Linked DNA regions of Homo sapiens: region 1 is linked to region 2. The links come from fine-mapping of genetic effects on gene expression. Tissue or cell type: putamen. Region 2 holds a variant in brackets; the other region holds the start of a gene. All regions are shown on one strand. Distances are from middle to middle.

The links. PIP is the estimated chance that this variant, and not a neighbour inherited with it, causes the effect.
Region 1: FRRS1L starts here. The variant in region 2 is fine-mapped to the expression of FRRS1L in putamen (GTEx, PIP 0.99).

What each region holds. Positions count from the first base shown.
Region 1 is chr9:109,162,705-109,170,793 of GRCh38, reverse strand. It overlaps FRRS1L (ferric chelate reductase 1 like), which reads left to right and starts at 3,545. Exons shown (of 5, transcript NM_014334.4): 1 at 3,545-3,893. The coding sequence starts at 3,656.
Region 2 is chr9:108,332,017-108,340,123 of GRCh38, reverse strand. The region is part of intron 2 of LOC105376214 (a long non-coding RNA gene); the gene reads left to right. Among named protein-coding and RNA genes, the nearest start is that of ACTL7B, 520 kb to the left of the region's middle. The variant C/T (reference allele first, on the strand shown) is at 3,623.

The sequences.
Region 1 (8,089 bases), 830 kb before region 2:
CACCGTTGCACTCCAGCCTGGGCAACAAGAGTGAAACTCCGTCTTAGAAAATAATAATAATAATATTGTTATGAACATTTGTGTACAAGTTTTTGTGTGAACATCTGTTTTAAATTCTCTTGGAATTGCTGGGTCAAATGGAAACTCCATGTTTAACTTTCTAAGGAACTGCCACAATCACAGCTTTTATTTCTTACAAAATCCAAAGTGAAAAATTATATATACTAGACAGTCAGAAGCCTGGGCAAATCGGTTACTCATCAGATACCAAGATGCAGCAATGATTTTGGGAGTTTTTAATCGCAAAAAAGGTTGTGTCAGAGAAATTGCTTTGAGGTGGAGAGAAAATAAAGGTACTGTCTTTCTTTTTAAAATGAAAATGAATTTAAATCTGGTTCATCTCTAAGTTTTTGTTTGAGTGGCCAGCTCTTGTACAGCCAGTGGTCTCAGAATGTTCAGGCAAAGTTCCTCCCCAGAAAATTTGCACAGTAGAGGAAACTACAATATTTCTTAGCTGTTCTGTAGAGTCACATTGGTGGGGAACAGAGGGTCTCTGCAAACCTAGGATGTAACTAAGAGGGGAGCATGTGCTTAAGGTTGGAATAGGTCTGCCTCCACTCTTTCCAGGACTTAAATCGTGTCAGAAAACATGAAGAGAAAGAAAATCCCCAAAGGCAATTTGAGTGGATGGGAGAGAATCTCATGAAATGGAAGGAGCCGAATAGGTTGCTGGGCCCTGAAAAGGCATAAGGCTTGAGTGACCCATAAAAGCTATAGGTTTTCCCAAACACTGCATGTTCTCACTCATAAGTGGGAGTTGAACAGTGAGAACACATGGACACAGGGAGGGGAACATCACACACCGAGGCATGTTGTGGGGGGTGAGGCAAGGGGAGGGAGAGCATTAGGACAAATACCTAACGCATGCAGGCTTAAAACCTAGATGACGGGTTGATGGGTACAGCAAACCACCATGGCACATGTATACCTATGTAACAAACCTGTACATTTTGCACATGTATCCCAGAACTTAAAGTAAATTAAAAAAAAAGTTGAACATGGAAAAAATAATTCATAAAAAAAGCTATGGGTTTTCTCCCTAGAAAAACCCATACATCACAACATTATTCCAGCACTTTCATAAGGTCCTCATATCACCCCTGAAGCCTATCTGTGGCCCCCTGTGAGTCTACATGAGTAGAGAGAGAATTGAAATCCACAGTTTACCTGCAAACTTCATTTTAGGCTGTAGTTGTAAACCGTCCCCAAAATACCCAAATACCCCCATAAAAACAATATAGAAAGCCCACGTGGTGGTGGTTTTTTTTGTTTTGTTTTGTTTTTTTGTTTGTTTTTTGTTTGTTTTTTGAGATGGAGTCTTGCTCTGTCGCCCAGGCTAGAGTGCAGTGGCCTGATCTCGACTCACTGCAAGCTCCGCCTCCCAGGTTCACGCCATTCTCCTGCCTTAGCTTCCCGAGTAGCTGGGACTTCAGGCGCCCGACACCATGCCCGGCTAATTTTTTGTATTTTCAGTAGAGACGGGATTTCACCGTGTTGGCCAGGATGGTGTCGATCTTCTGACCTTGTGATCCGCCCGCCTCGGCCTCCCAAAGTGCTGGAGTTACAGGCGTGAGCCACCGTGCCCGGCTGCCCACGTGTTTTTATATCAGATTAATTTACTCGGAGAAGAATGGCCTGGTTTTCATTTGCCTTCTATTTGGGCACCGTTATTGTTAATTTCAGTAACCAAAATGAAGGGAATAAAAAGGAAAGTAAGAGGTAAAAGCTTGTATTCCCAAACCAGAGAATCTACACTGAAATCAAAAGTCTAATGCTTTATTTTTTTGGCTAAACTTTGGTCCATTCTAAGTTGACCATACCTTCCCTGGTGAACAGAAAGAGAAGAAAAGAAAATAAAGAAATTTTAATTTTTAAGAAAGGTTTAAGGTTTTTGTTTTTGTTTTTGTTTTTTTTTTTTTTTTTGAAGGACTACACTTTAACAGATTTTCAATCTGTTGGATCAGCTTTTTTAGAATGTTATGCATTGCCACGCTATGCTTTTTGGGAAGAAGTCTCTTGAGTTTTTAAAGTAATCATAGTTCATCTTACCTTTTTCAAATAATCTGATCTATTTTTTGTGACAACTGCTATGTTGGGGGACCTAGTGAAGCCCAAGGTTTTCATGAATTACACCTCAATTCAGCCATCAGGATTAATATGTTTAAATTCCAGTTGGACAGCCCACTGTTAGCTGATACCTAATAGAAAATACCTGACTTCTAAGTCCCCCATCATGTCTCCCCTGTTTCAACAGCACTACCCTTATCTCTCAGCCAATCAGGCCATAAAGGGTTAAGATCACTAGTTTCCTTTTGAATATTAACATTTCACAATATTGTGTACATGTGTGCATGCCACTTACAGCACTGAACCCTATTGATCCTTACCTCTATGATCTTCCCTAATCTTCATTGCATCATGTCAATGACTAATCATGAGAGATCAGGCAGTCTGACTTCTAGGTCTGCATTTGGGACCTCTATGCTTTTCTGCCTCCATAATTATTTTGTTTATGCAATAAAATAAAATAATAAAATAGGAAAAGCAGGTTAAAATGCTGGCTCTGCAACACCAGCCTGAAAGGAATTGCGTCCGCCTCTCTGATGGAAAACAGCTTAGCAATTCGAATATATCACCCCAACAACCATCATCAAAAGAGAACCCTGGGACCTGCCATAAAGCAAATGCTTGGTGTGAATCAATGGATGGCTGAGTAAATAGCCAAAAGTGAACTGCAAGCAGCAGGAATGGATTTGAGAAAAATCAACAATTCAGCATGGCCCTCAGATACGGTGTGGGCCTTCCAAGGCCTGCGCGTGCTTGCTGCAGGGAAAGAGAGTAAACCAGAAGCCTAGTTTTGAAGGGGAACAGGTTACCTACTGGCACCAGCCTCTGTTGATTACACACCGCAAGAGCCTGGAGAGGAAGCAGGTGAATCCAGTTTTCTCTGTCTCTAAACACCTCAGTTTACCTAGCTCTATTGTGGGGGTCTTGCAATTTCAAGTTCCTTCTGTGATGATCCAAGAAATAATAGGTCTAGCAAGTGCTTTATGTAAACCAAAAAGTGCCGGCACAAGGTTGAGGAGGCAGCACTGACCAGGTGTGTCCAGGGTAAACTCTCTAGAGGAGCGTTTCATAAATTGAACGTGCATTGGGATCTCCTGGGAATTTTGATGAAATGAACATCCCGCTTCATGGGTCTGGAGTGGGGCCTCAGCGATGCTAACAAGCTTCCAGGTGATGCTGATGCTGCCGGTCCGCGGACCACACTCCGGAGTAGCAAGGGGCCAGAAGGGCCAAATCTGCCTGCGTGGAGGGAAGTCGGGGAGATGGGGAGAATGGAAAGAAGGACGGTAGAAGGGAAGCTGCTAGGAAGGAGAGATCGGTGCGGGGAGGAGGGGGGTTCCAAGAAGAAGGGGGAGGCTGCGGTGCTGGAGCGAGGATGCGCAGACCGAGGCAGGGAGGCGGGGGTGCGGGAGGCTCCGCGGCTGCGCGGGCGCGTGCTGGTGGCCTCGGCGGAGGCTCAGTCCCGGCCCGCGCCCGCGGCGCCCCCGCTGCGGCCCGAGCGGCCTGGCTGCGGGATCTGTGCGCACGGATGGCGCGGCCGCCCCGGCAGCACCCGGGGGTCTGGGCGTCGCTGCTCCTGCTGCTACTGACGGGGCCCGCCGCCTGCGCAGCCAGCCCCGCGGACGACGGTGCGGGCCCGGGGGGCCGGGGACCCCGGGGACGCGCGCGGGGGGACACGGGCGCCGACGAGGCGGTGCCGCGCCACGACTCCTCCTACGGCACCTTCGCGGGGGAGTTCTACGACCTGCGCTACCTGTCGGAGGAGGGTGAGGCTGCGGGAGGGCGAGGGGTTGCGGGAGGGGAGACCGGGGGTGGGGGACCGAGGATCGGGGGAACGAGGAGAGGGGGCGAGGGAGGGGGAGGGGGTCGGAAAAGATGTCCGTGGAGGCAGCTCTTGCAGAGGCGAGGCCAGGATGGGGAGCGCAGTGCCCAGGCCTCCGCCGGCCTGGAGGAAAGGCCCAAAGAGCTGTCAATGCCTGCCGCCCGCTTTACAGATGGGGAGAGTGAGGCTGGGAGAGGGAGGGGTCATCCAAGTTCTGCAAGGCTGTGGATAGGGGTGGGTGCTGAGTCTAAGCTCCCCCAGTTCTTAGATCTGGCTTCCACCTTTGCCGCCTGGGGTTGGGTTATAGGGGAGGAGGCCGCCATCTGGCCAGGGCAGCTAGGGGGAAGCAGAAAAACCCCAACCTAAAGAGAGAGGTTGCCTTATTTCCTCCCTGTCTGTATTGACTTAAATTTGCAGTGACCAGCGCCCACCTCGTAGCATTCTGTTCCTGCTCACTGACCCGTCAGAGCTGGGTCACATCAGCCTCCCCACTCCCATCCCTCCTCTTTTATGACGCCACATATGTTATGGTCCCCTAGTGCGAGCCACCATTGTTGTGGCCTGCTGGGCCCGCAGACTGGGAGTTTGTCAGCCAAGGGCCTCCCTGTAGAGCTGCTTCAACGAGCACAAAAGCCAAGCGGATGGTGGTCAGAAGGAATGGAAACTGGCCTCTTTAAGCAACTTTGGGAAGTAGTGACTTTCCTTTTCTTCTGCTAAGAGGGATATCCAACCATCAAGCTGGGGTTTGAAGTGTTGAGTCCCAGGAGCTCATATCTGTTAGTGGATGTGTCTGTTGTTAGGATTAAGTTCAGCTGTATACAACAAGCAAACATTAATAGCTTCAACAAGATAGAAGTTTCTCTCTTACAGAAAGAAAACTAGAAATAGGTAATCCAGAACTGGTCTGGAGGCTCCTTGGTCACCAGTGTCTCTGGATCCTGCCCTTCTGTTTCTTCACAATTCTTAGCATGTAACTTCATGGTTCAAAATAACTGCTTGAGCTACAGCCATTATGTTCACATTCTAGACAGTGGGAAAAATGAAGCAGGAAGAAGGTCACTGACTACTTTATAAAGGGATTACTCGGAAGTTTCATATAACAATTTTTATACTTCTTTGGCCACAACTTAATCATATGGTTGCACATAGGTACAAAGGAGGATGTAAAATAGAGCCTATTAGCTGAGACATAATATGCCCAGTTCAAAAATCAGAATTATTGTATTAAAGAAGATGGAGAGAATGGATTTGGGGAAATGTATTAAGTAGAGGCTTAACTGCTGAATTAGAGATTTTAACATATAGTGGTTTAAATAAGCTAGTTTATTTTTCTCTCTGATAAGAGTCTGGTTGGTCTGGGGCTGGTGGGATGACTCTGTTCCGCAAGGTCATTCAGGGACCCGGGTTCTTTCCATCTTGTTGCTCTGCCATCCCCCTGAGGCTTTGTCCTCATCAGTACAGTAGAAGCCAGGTTGCATGTCCTTGTTCAAGATTGAGGGAAAGAAAAAGAGAAGTTCAGGGCAAGTAGTTACCTTTTAGGCTGGCTGCCCACATTACTGCTGTTCACATTCCTTTGGCAAAAACATAGTTACAATGACCTAGCTTCAAGGGAGACTAAGAAATGTAGTCTTCTAGCTGGAGAGCCATGTGGCGGAATCTGTCACTCTGGAAAAGAATAAATATTCCGAAGCCCGTCTGTTTCTGAAAGCATCTAATGTATCTTTACACTGTACACAGCCTAGTGCTGCCAGGTGACTTAAATGTGGTATGTGAGAACTTGTATTCTGATTGGGCTCATGCATCTAACAAATGAAGGATAAGCTCAGATTCTGTACGTCCTTTGAGTCTCTCTGCAGAGAGAATGATATGTTCATTGTATAGTCCAGAAAGTTTTATGAATGTGGACATCAGGTGGGCCACAGCCATCAAGGACAGCTTTTATAGAGTCAAGCCATGAAGTAGGAAAGACTTCAGTGACACAGAAGAGGGAAGGCATTTAGGTGAGGTGATCACATAGCAGGCAGCAGGGCTTTGTACCGATCCCTAGTGTGTCTGCTTCGCGCCCCCACCATTCTGCACATAAAACTGGTTTAACCCTCCTGAAGTCTGCCTCTAACCTGTTGGCATTGCACTCAAAAGTCTGTGATGGGGCCGGGCGTGGTGCTTCACGACTGTAATCCCAGCACTTTGGGAGGCTGAGGTGGGTGGATCAGGAGGTCAGGAGTTCGAGACTAGCCTGGCCAACATGGTGAAACCCCGTCTCTACTAAAAATACAAAATTAGCCGGGCGTGGTGGTGCACGCCTGTAATCCCAGCTACTCAGGAGGCTGAGGCAGGAGAATTGCTTGAACCCAGGAGGTGGGGAGGTTGCAGTGAGCTGAGATTGCATCATTGCACTCCATCCTGGACAACAGAGTGAGACTCGGTCTCAAAAAAAAAAAAAAAAAATCAACCTGCTCCCTGAATGAATATTCAACTGCTTTATCTGAAATGTCCTCCCTGGCTCAACTTCCTTTTACAACCATATCTCCCCTTCCCTCACCCTGAGCTTTTACTCTCCATTCTTCTCCTACCCTCTTCTCTCTGACAGTTTCATTTCCTCTTTGCATACAGATTCTACCACCATCCGGTGGGTGCTAGTTGAGATGTAAGTGGCGTGGGGCTATCAGAGGCAGTGCCTCTGCTAGATTACCCTGGGCCTAGGCTTCATCCCTGTGGGTCCTGAATAGAGACTTTCCCAAGACGCTTAGAAATAAACAGTGACATTGCCTTAAAAGCGGGGGCTGAGGAGGGGTTGCCAGAGAGAGGGAAGAAGAACCAGGAGAGAGGGGTGTCCCAGAAGGCAAAGGAAAAGAGCCTGTTTCCTACCAAGGTGTGGCCTGATAGCATGAAGGCTCAAAATTATCGATGGTTTCAGGAGATGAGAGGTTATGGGTGGAACTCTCCTAGGACAGATTCAGTGGAGAAGGAAGGAGGGAACCTGACTGACCTTGGAGGACGTGGCAAGTGAAGAAGTGCCGGTAATGCCTTTGACTTATTCTATCAATACACTTGAGGTTGTCCATTTCTAGTGACTAGGCTACTTGTTCCCTCTGTGCAGGGTACCCCCTTCTTATGTCTCAAATAGTCATGAAACTGAGTTCAAAAATCAGAAAAAAAGGAATTTGAATAGTGGAGGTGGGAATGGAAATCCACTGAAACTGAGAGAGAGCCTACTGACCATTACCTACCCTACCCAGAGACTATTTCCCCAGTATCCAGATTGCCCAAAACCCTCAAATCCAGAGGCAGGATGCTGGCTAATTTGCTGTCTCAAGAAAATGATCACCCCCTAACATGGTCATTTTTAAAAACTTAAGTTATGCTAGTGTTCAGAATTCTTTGAGGGTCCCACTGTCTAAGCCTATACTACTCATGCTTACAGTCTCAGCTCAAATGTCACCTCTTTCAGGAAGCCTTCCCTGATTTTCTCCTTCTCCCACAGAAGATATTCTTCCACAGCACACAGTCTGCCGTGACCCTCTTTGCTGTCTATGGTCAGGAGTTCAGATAGGATCTTAGTGCTTGAATCCTACCACTCATACTTCTTTCCCTTGAGGTTCTTAACCCAGAGTCTATATATTCAGAGCAATGATAGAATGTGAAACAGATTACCATTTGATTATGGGCAAATGCTCACTTCTGAGGGTTCTTTGGGGAAAAACAAACAAAACTGAGTTGGATGTTGGCTAAGGGTTAAGTCCCAAATGAAGCTTGCTTCTCCCTGCTGCTAAGATGGCCAGGTTTGGGAAGCAGACCCTCAGTCTTAATCCAGCCAGCTACATGGATGATGTTAACCGCCTGACCCTTGGAGCCATACCCTGCCTAAGAAGGAAAAGACAGAACATCATTTATGGTCACTTATCTTTAAGGCATAGTCATCTGACTACTCGTAAAATGTGGCTCAATCAAGGATTTTCTGACCATTGAGTTCTGATCACAATTTTTCTTGGGAAAGAGCCAGAGAGGTAGAAAGAAGGACAGAACATGGGGCAAAGGGCAGAAGTTTAGTCATCTTCCTATATCCTTCCCCCATCTACCTTGGACGGTATGTGGATATATAACTTACCACTCTACTAATCTGGAAGTCCTTTAAGGGTA
Region 2 (8,107 bases):
TTAAAATAAATTCAATATTTTAGTTTTGGAAGTATCTTCTATAGTTAAGTTTTAATTTCTGATTATTTGTATTTGTTGTCACAATTGGTACACTTGGTCTCATTTCTGCAGCCTTCTTTCCATAATGCTTCCATACTGGTTTATTTGCTATAGCTTTGTTCTCCAAAGTGGAATGCATAGAACATTAATTGGAGTCCCAGAAGGAAATACTAGTTTTTACATTTCAAAATTAAGATTGATATTAAACTTGACTCATTTAATATAAATTGTCACTGGTTCTTCACGCAGGTCCACAAGTAAGACAGATGCTCTCTGTTTATTGATAGTAAGCAAGGTGGAAGGGAGTGATTTCCAGAGGGTGGGGGTGAATGACAATGACACTTTTACATTCTGCAAACTTTTGACTCACTGAAGTTTGTGTGCCCAGTTAGGTGGATTTAAGAGTTATTTAATTTGCTTTTATGTAAGCTGTCAAAATTTACAAGAATCTTAAGATAATTCCAAAAAAAAGAAGCAGGTTAAAAGTAATGCCCATGATACAGACAAGAACAATAATGACAACCCGTCTGTCTCCCCACCCCCTCCCTCCCACCCCCACCCCAAAAGGCCCAGCTAATGCTTTCCATTTTCCTGGCAGGAGTGCTCCATCAGCCACATTATGAGGTAATAGAGAGCATTTTCAAAACGGATGTTTGGAAATGTTTCTCAGTGTTTCCATTGCTATGTGATACATTGCTGAAAACGATAGAAATGTTACACCTATAAAAAATAATCTGTGGTATCAACACACTTAAAGGATTTAAAATAGAATTTTTATAATCTTTGAAAGTTTTTAGAGAATTTTAAACCCTTTGTTGAGGCAAAAAACTATAACATGTACTGATTCCTTTTCAAGAACAATTGATCATGGAAGATGGAAACTTACTACCAAATTTCAACAAGAACAATTACATAATTGATGGGTGGAATCGATTATAAATGTCATGATTATTAAGTACAGCCAATGACACACTTCTTTCCCTTGCGTTTCTCTCTCTGTGAAGGATCTTATTCAGTTACTACAGCCATGAAAACCAAGTTTGAAATAAAAATTGACCCAGAATCATACCTTTGGGTTGCTATATTGCAAGATATGTAACCAACAGTTTCAAAAACATTGAAAAATTTAAACATTCTGCTCTCACTGAATGTTACTATTATTTCAGTGAAAGAAAGAAAAATGTTGTTTGTGTTGTTAATAAATACAATAAATTTATTTTAAACTAGTGTTATTTCAAGTTCATCTTTTTAATGATTTTATTGTATAATATATGCACATATCCATGTATATACAATAGTACATATATTTATATACAATTTATTAAGAAATCACTAAAGTGAGTATACATTGCTTAAAAAGTCTTAGTAATAAAAATAGAAGTTGCAATCTTTTTATTTAGTCTTTTTTCCTTTAATTTCTTTAAAATTTTGAATATATTTTCTTTAATTGGTGATGCTGAAAATTAAACTATACTTATTTCCATTGTGTAAGTAATGTAATATACTTGTCTAGAGCTTTCCCACATGTTCTAATTTTTATTGATAGTAATTTGTGACTCTGGCCCAAATGATTATCATTTTCATCACACAGCTTCTCTTTTAAGAATTGTTAAAACCATCTGTATTAATTTATGAAACTATATTTATAGTTATTTAAACAACTCTTTATTTAGTTTCATTTGTACCACTGAGGCTTTTGGCCACAACCTCCAATTTAAATTTTAAAATTTTGGTTTATGTCTTGGTTAAATCTTCAAGTAATTTTATCCATATATGCTTCCCGGAAGCATATATAGATGATATAATTAACATGTCTTATATCCTTGGGTACAATTTTTGTCAGCCACATTACACAGAGTAATTGTTTAGTTATAGAATCTATTGTCACATCTTTTCCCCTAAAAATACTCCAGAGATTACCGCATTTTTTTTTTTTTCTGGAAGTTTGCAACACAGGGGCATCTATGACTAGCTGAGGTCTTATCTCTATTGTATTTTTAAATGCTATTTTCCCCTGAGGTTTACAATTCTGTAGTTCTTCTGGTTTCTCCTAGGCTCACTCTGATGGCTGCAGTCATCAGTGGCTTACAGGGCTAGGGGTCTAAAGTGGCCTTACACACAGTCTGGGGCTGGTACTGGATGTCACAGCGTCTTTCTCTATCCATTCTTTTAACTTCCCTAGTCTCCTTACTTGGTGAAGGGAAGGTTTTCAAGAGGTGAGGTCAGGAGCTCAAGGCCTGAGCTCCACACACAATGTCACTCCTGCCACATTCCACTGGTGTAAACAAGTCATGAGGCCAGGCAGTTTTCTTCCACTTCTGGACAGAAGGTGCAGCAAAGTCATATCGCAAAGGTGCAGGTAGCCTGGGAGGGGAGGAATTTGCAGCCATTAAGCAATCTACCACACCAACAGTCCCCCAACATTCAACTTAACAAACAGAAGTTTTTCTCCTTTCATGTGATGATTCAGGGTCTCAGTTTCCTTCCATCCCTGAGGACCCCTGAGCCCTCCCTCTCCAGCCAGCCAAAATGGAAATATGTGGTGGGGAAGGCACACTTTCTTCTTCAAAACCCCATTTCAGAAGAGATCTTCACTTCTGCTCATGTGTCTTTGGCAAGAACTGTTCATATAGCTGTACCCTGAAGGAAGGGGCAGGTGGCACCCAGAATAATCATGGAAGGGGAACCATGAACTTTTGGTGGACAATTACGGTTGTTTTTTTTTTTTTTCCTTTTTTTCTTCCACTGATGACTCTATTATCAGTGACTGGTTCAGAAAAACGCTGGAATCTTTCTGAGATGCAAATTAGCATATTTGTGTGCTTATTTGTTAGAGTAATTATTTCAAAAGAAGCATTTCTGTCTCTTCAAGATGATCTTCTTATTTGGACCTGCAGTATCTTTTCTTTACCTAGGATCCCCAAGGTGGCCCTGTTTGGGTGGCCTTCCAATCTTATAGTGGTCTCTTGCTTCTCTTGTGAGCAATTTCTTCTGGAAGCTTTCCTGGCTTAAGAAAAAGCCTAGCCTCAGAATGGCATTTTGATCATTGGATTTTCCTTTTCCAATATCTCTTTTACCCTTTTCAAATTAATTGGTCTGACATAAATTGTCTAGGTCCCTCCACTCCCTTGCCACTTTCTTTGTCACAGGGACAATCATAAATAGAGTCTGAATGGTATCTTAGGTTCATTACCATCAGCCTACATGAAATATATACTCCCTGGTGTGGCAGGCATATGTATGGCACCCTTCCTACTTTCCAACACTGATGCTGGTTTTTCCCTAATTTTATATCCACTGGTCATCTCATGTGTCTGAGGGTGGAAGGCGGAGTGTTCAATGCCTGCACTTACATCATCATCAGATGCAGGGAAATTACAGTCTTACATTTAAATGCTATGGAAATTATATGGTCTGTGATATCAGTTTCTTTAAAACACCTTATAAACTTTCACTTTGCAGAACTATCATAAATCTGTTTAATTCAACAGTTTACACGAGGTACTCCAGTATTCCAGTTGGAAGTAAACTGTTTTTCTGCTTGATTGAAACTTTGCACTGTTGGAAGTTGTTAAGAATACCA[C/T]GTATTGCAGTCAAATATCTCCATATCTGATAATCAAAAATAGTAATAGCTCACATGTGTGTCCACTTAGCGAGGAGTTCCTGAGGCTGCAATGTTCTAGAAGTGACACTCAGCACTGGGGTGCAGGCCTCAGGTATAGAGATTCTGCCTTCAAGTTGCCCACACTCATTGGAGAGCAGACAGATAATTCAATGATAATGATGTGACGACGTTTTGGAATATCACCATTGTGCTTTCCTTTCTCTACCCCATTGCACTTGGCCTTTCCACCAGGGGAAGCAGGACTAAAAGGGTGAAAAATACCAGCGAGCTTTTCTTTTTCTTTTTGTTTTTTGACCTTCAAAATGGGCTTTTGATACCCAAAAGGAAGATTTGAGGGAAGCATGGTGCAAACTTTATGCCACACAGTTAATTTGAAACAGTTCTCTGTCTCACTTCTGGAGAAGAGTTCCTGGGCTGGGGCATGGTCTGGAGGGAAGGAGGAGAAGTTACCTTGTGGAGTTTGGTGGTGCCAGACAGGAGAGGGTCATATTTGGGTGCCCACAGAAAGGAGGGCAGGCTCAACAGAATGACTCTCTCCAACTTCATCCAAGACCTTGCTGAGCTGTGAAAGTGCCCTCTGTGGATGGTCCCTCTTTTCCAAGGTTTGGGGTACCTATATATCTCCGTCAAAAAAAAAAGACTAAGGGTTATGACATCATGAGAAGCTGTTAATGATAGTAAAGAAGACTGCACAAAGGTAACCACTTGCTTTTCCCAGAGAGTCACAATTCAGGAATCTAAAATCAATTTTTCTGTGGATGGCTATTGAACAATGAGAAAAGGATCAGTGCTGAGAGGTGGGGTGTCACCAAAGGGAGTTTCTATAGCCTAAACTTATGTATTGCTGGATAAGACCAGCAAGAGGGTGTCTCTGATAACACAGGCAGTATGATTATAGTTGTAGGATTTTAGTAGCATGGTTTTTGAACTCAATATGAAAACATCCAGCAAAAGACTCCCAAATGTATTTATATGAGAAACTTTACAAAGCCATGTGAATCAAATCATGTACAACCATATGTTGAATAAAATCCGCCTTAATTCAAGAAATAATTACATAAAATCAGTATCTTCCTGGAACACCCTACTTACCACCCAAAGCACAGAGTAGAGAAAATATTATGAGCATTCTAAAATTGAGCATGTACGTATGACATAAGTAACATGTAAACATACTTTTATTTGTAAAAACAAACAAAAACATGGTTGATGGGATTGTGGGAGGGCTTCTTATTTTTCCAGTTTCAAATAATGAGCATGTATTTTATAATTAGAAAAATGTGATTATAATTTTTTAACATAGAAAATTGAGGATATATTATAATGAATAAAGAATTCTTAAAATTTTCTCTCTCAATTTGCTTGATATACCTATCAGAATAATAATTTATATACACACTTGAAATTTAATGTATTAATTGTTATTCTGATAGGTTTATCAAGAAAATTAAGAGAGAAAATTTTAAGAATTATTATTATGGTTTTTTAGAGGGAGATTATTTTTGTTTTTGTCCAACACCTGTTGGAGCTGTAACTCTACCTGAAGAATTTGACATTTTCATCATGACTAATAAAAGACTGCTGCTTCGAAAAGAAGAAAAAAAAGTAATTCTTTGTTCTTGAAATCAAAGACAAAGAATCATGTAGCTCTGTTTCCTCTAACTTACTTCATTCAGTTTGACTTATTTTAACATCTATTCCATGTCCTGTTTCAATACCCTGCTAGACATTGATCTCAACATTTCATTAGGAATTCTTGGTGGAAAGAAATTATTCTGAACATTTGTTCCTTGTTCTTACAGTAAATGAAGTGTCATTTACATTTCACATCTTTTCCTGCTAACCTGTAATCTCTTGAAGACTTTAGTAGTTTTCCATTATTAGCTCACAGACATTTATTATCATTTTCCCTCTTGATTTATGCTGAAACCTCAGTGATTGAATCATGATTCTCAGAATCATTATATAAAATTGTGTAAGTGCTCCATGAGCAAAAATATTTCTTTAAACTTCTTGACAACAAACTAAAGGAATTGGTTTCCTAGCTTTTCTCTTTATAAAAGGGCTGTGTTGTTATAATGGCACAATTTTAGCTTCTGTAGTTTGATCCTGTGTGAAGAGGTACAAATGTAGATTCTCGAAATGGCATTTTAGGGTGGAAAGAGCACCAGCATTAGAAGTGACAGACCTGAGTTTTCATCTTCAACACTCGGATAATTACTTGCTGTGTATTCTTCAGACAAGACTCTTCTGAGTCTCTGTTTTCTTGTTTTAGAGTCAGATTAAAAAAGAAACAGCTCCTTCTCAGAGTTGTTTTGAGGATGACAAATATAGTAAGTACCCTGTATGCAGCAAAAGCTCAATAAATGATAGTAATAGTTTATTCATATTTTTGCTCTTTGCTCTATCAATTCCTACTTTGGCAGAATGGCTGGCACATGGTGAATGATGAACACTGTGGCTCTCAGTTTTGGAATTTAGGAAAGCATAGTCTAGGATACAGGAGCTCTTATCTGTATAGTAGGCTTTAAAGTTCAACTGCTTCTTTTAGTATGCAAAGAACAGAGTGCTCAGTCACATGCTTGTGGTAACTAAGTAAGACAGCTACCACTATTGACATTTTAACTATGAACTTTGAAATACAACCAGAAAATCAGGAGGTTACCTCATTTTGTTAGCTGTGAACTCATTTACTTTTAAAATCAATAAATATTCATTGAGCACCTACCAAGTCCCTGGATACAGTGTGAAAAGGACAGGCAAGGCCTTTGGTTGCCTGGAAATGGCTTTTGAGTAGGGAGAGAGATAAATGAATACACAAAATAATTAGAGCTTGTCTGACATGTTGAGTAGCTCAGCTGAGAGCAACAGTGAACTTAGGACAGAGTGATTCCGGTCCTGGAAAACCTAGGTATAGGGTAACATTTAAGCTGCAGTGAGAAGCTGCAATTCTTCAGCGAGTGGGGTAAGATTGGTTCAGGAAGCCAGGAAAACACGTGCAAAGCCCCAAATCCAGGAATATGGGAAATTTGATAAATATCCAGGTTGTTTTCAGGGGCATGATAATCTTTTCTTTGATCATTCCACTTACTGAATAAGAGCTGATGAAGTGGAGCGTGACTCTTGCTAGCCATATATTAATATATTCTGGTACAAGATAGTCCAGAAGATTATATATAGGCAGGCAGAATTTTCTCTAAAACAGGTTTAATGGTCACTAAATAAAAACTATTCAGCCCTCTTGTTTGGTATTATAATTAGTAATAATGACACTAATACCATAGTTATATAGAACACTTGTAATTCACAGAATGTCAAGGAAATATTAGACTATTAAGTGGAGCTGGGGAATTGGGGTTGAGATCTATTTCCTCAGGCTCTCATGGGCACTGTTGATGTTCTCATCATCCAAGTCCACAAAATATCTTAGTTCGGGGAGATCTGAAGCTTCCATAGCAAGCTTGATTCCAAAATCGTTGCTTTGCCTAGGAGCTCCAGTGACAGGACACTCACAGGACCTCTCAGATCTCATCACCTCTTGTGCTATAGAAATCCTCTCTCCTCTATACTTTTTTCTTTTTTTTGAGATGGAGTCTCGCTCTGTCGCCCAGGCTGGAGTGCAGTGGTGCAATCTCGGCTCACTGTAAGCTTTGCCTCCCCGGTTCACGCCATGCCTCAGCCTCCCGAGCAGCAGTGACTACAGGCACCCGCCACCACGCCTGGCTAATTTTTGGTATTTTTAGTAGAGACGGGGTTTCACTGTGTTAGCCAGGATGGTCTCGATCTCCTGACCTCATGATCCGCCCGCCTTGGCCTCCCAAAGTGGTGGGACTACAGGCGTGAGCCACCGTGCCCGGCCTCCTCTATACTTTTGTGAGCCTCTGTTCTCCACTCAAAGGCACTCACTGCTCCAATCTCCTCAGCAAAGCTTTCTGAAGGTCTCACTTTTGGAAGCCAAGAGCCTGGGAGAAGATTGACTGTAGGCAAGAGAATGACCCTGGCTGCCCTTTTGAAATGGGGTGGGGAAAATAGAGTAAGAGCCAGACCCTAACATTTTCCATATCTGGAAGCCCAGAATGTAATAGAAATTTAGGTTCTGTTTTATCAAAGCTACACAAGTACGTATTTCTATGAAAAGCCTCTGCTCCTATGTTCCTGCACACAGAGGCCACCACTTGCAACCCTTCTAATAGAATCTTTTAGCATATATTTTCATGTATTTAAATCAAGCTTATGTTGCTACATCTTGATTTGTAAAAATCATTTTAAGTATGACTATTGATTCCCCATTATTGTATATGAGGATTTACCTTTATTCATATTTCTCATTCCCGCATTCTCTCAATATAATTTTATGGCCATATAAAAATGATTTATATCTGAGCATGAAGTATTGTGTGATTACTTTTCGTGCACAATATTTTGTTGCCTTTGGAATTAATC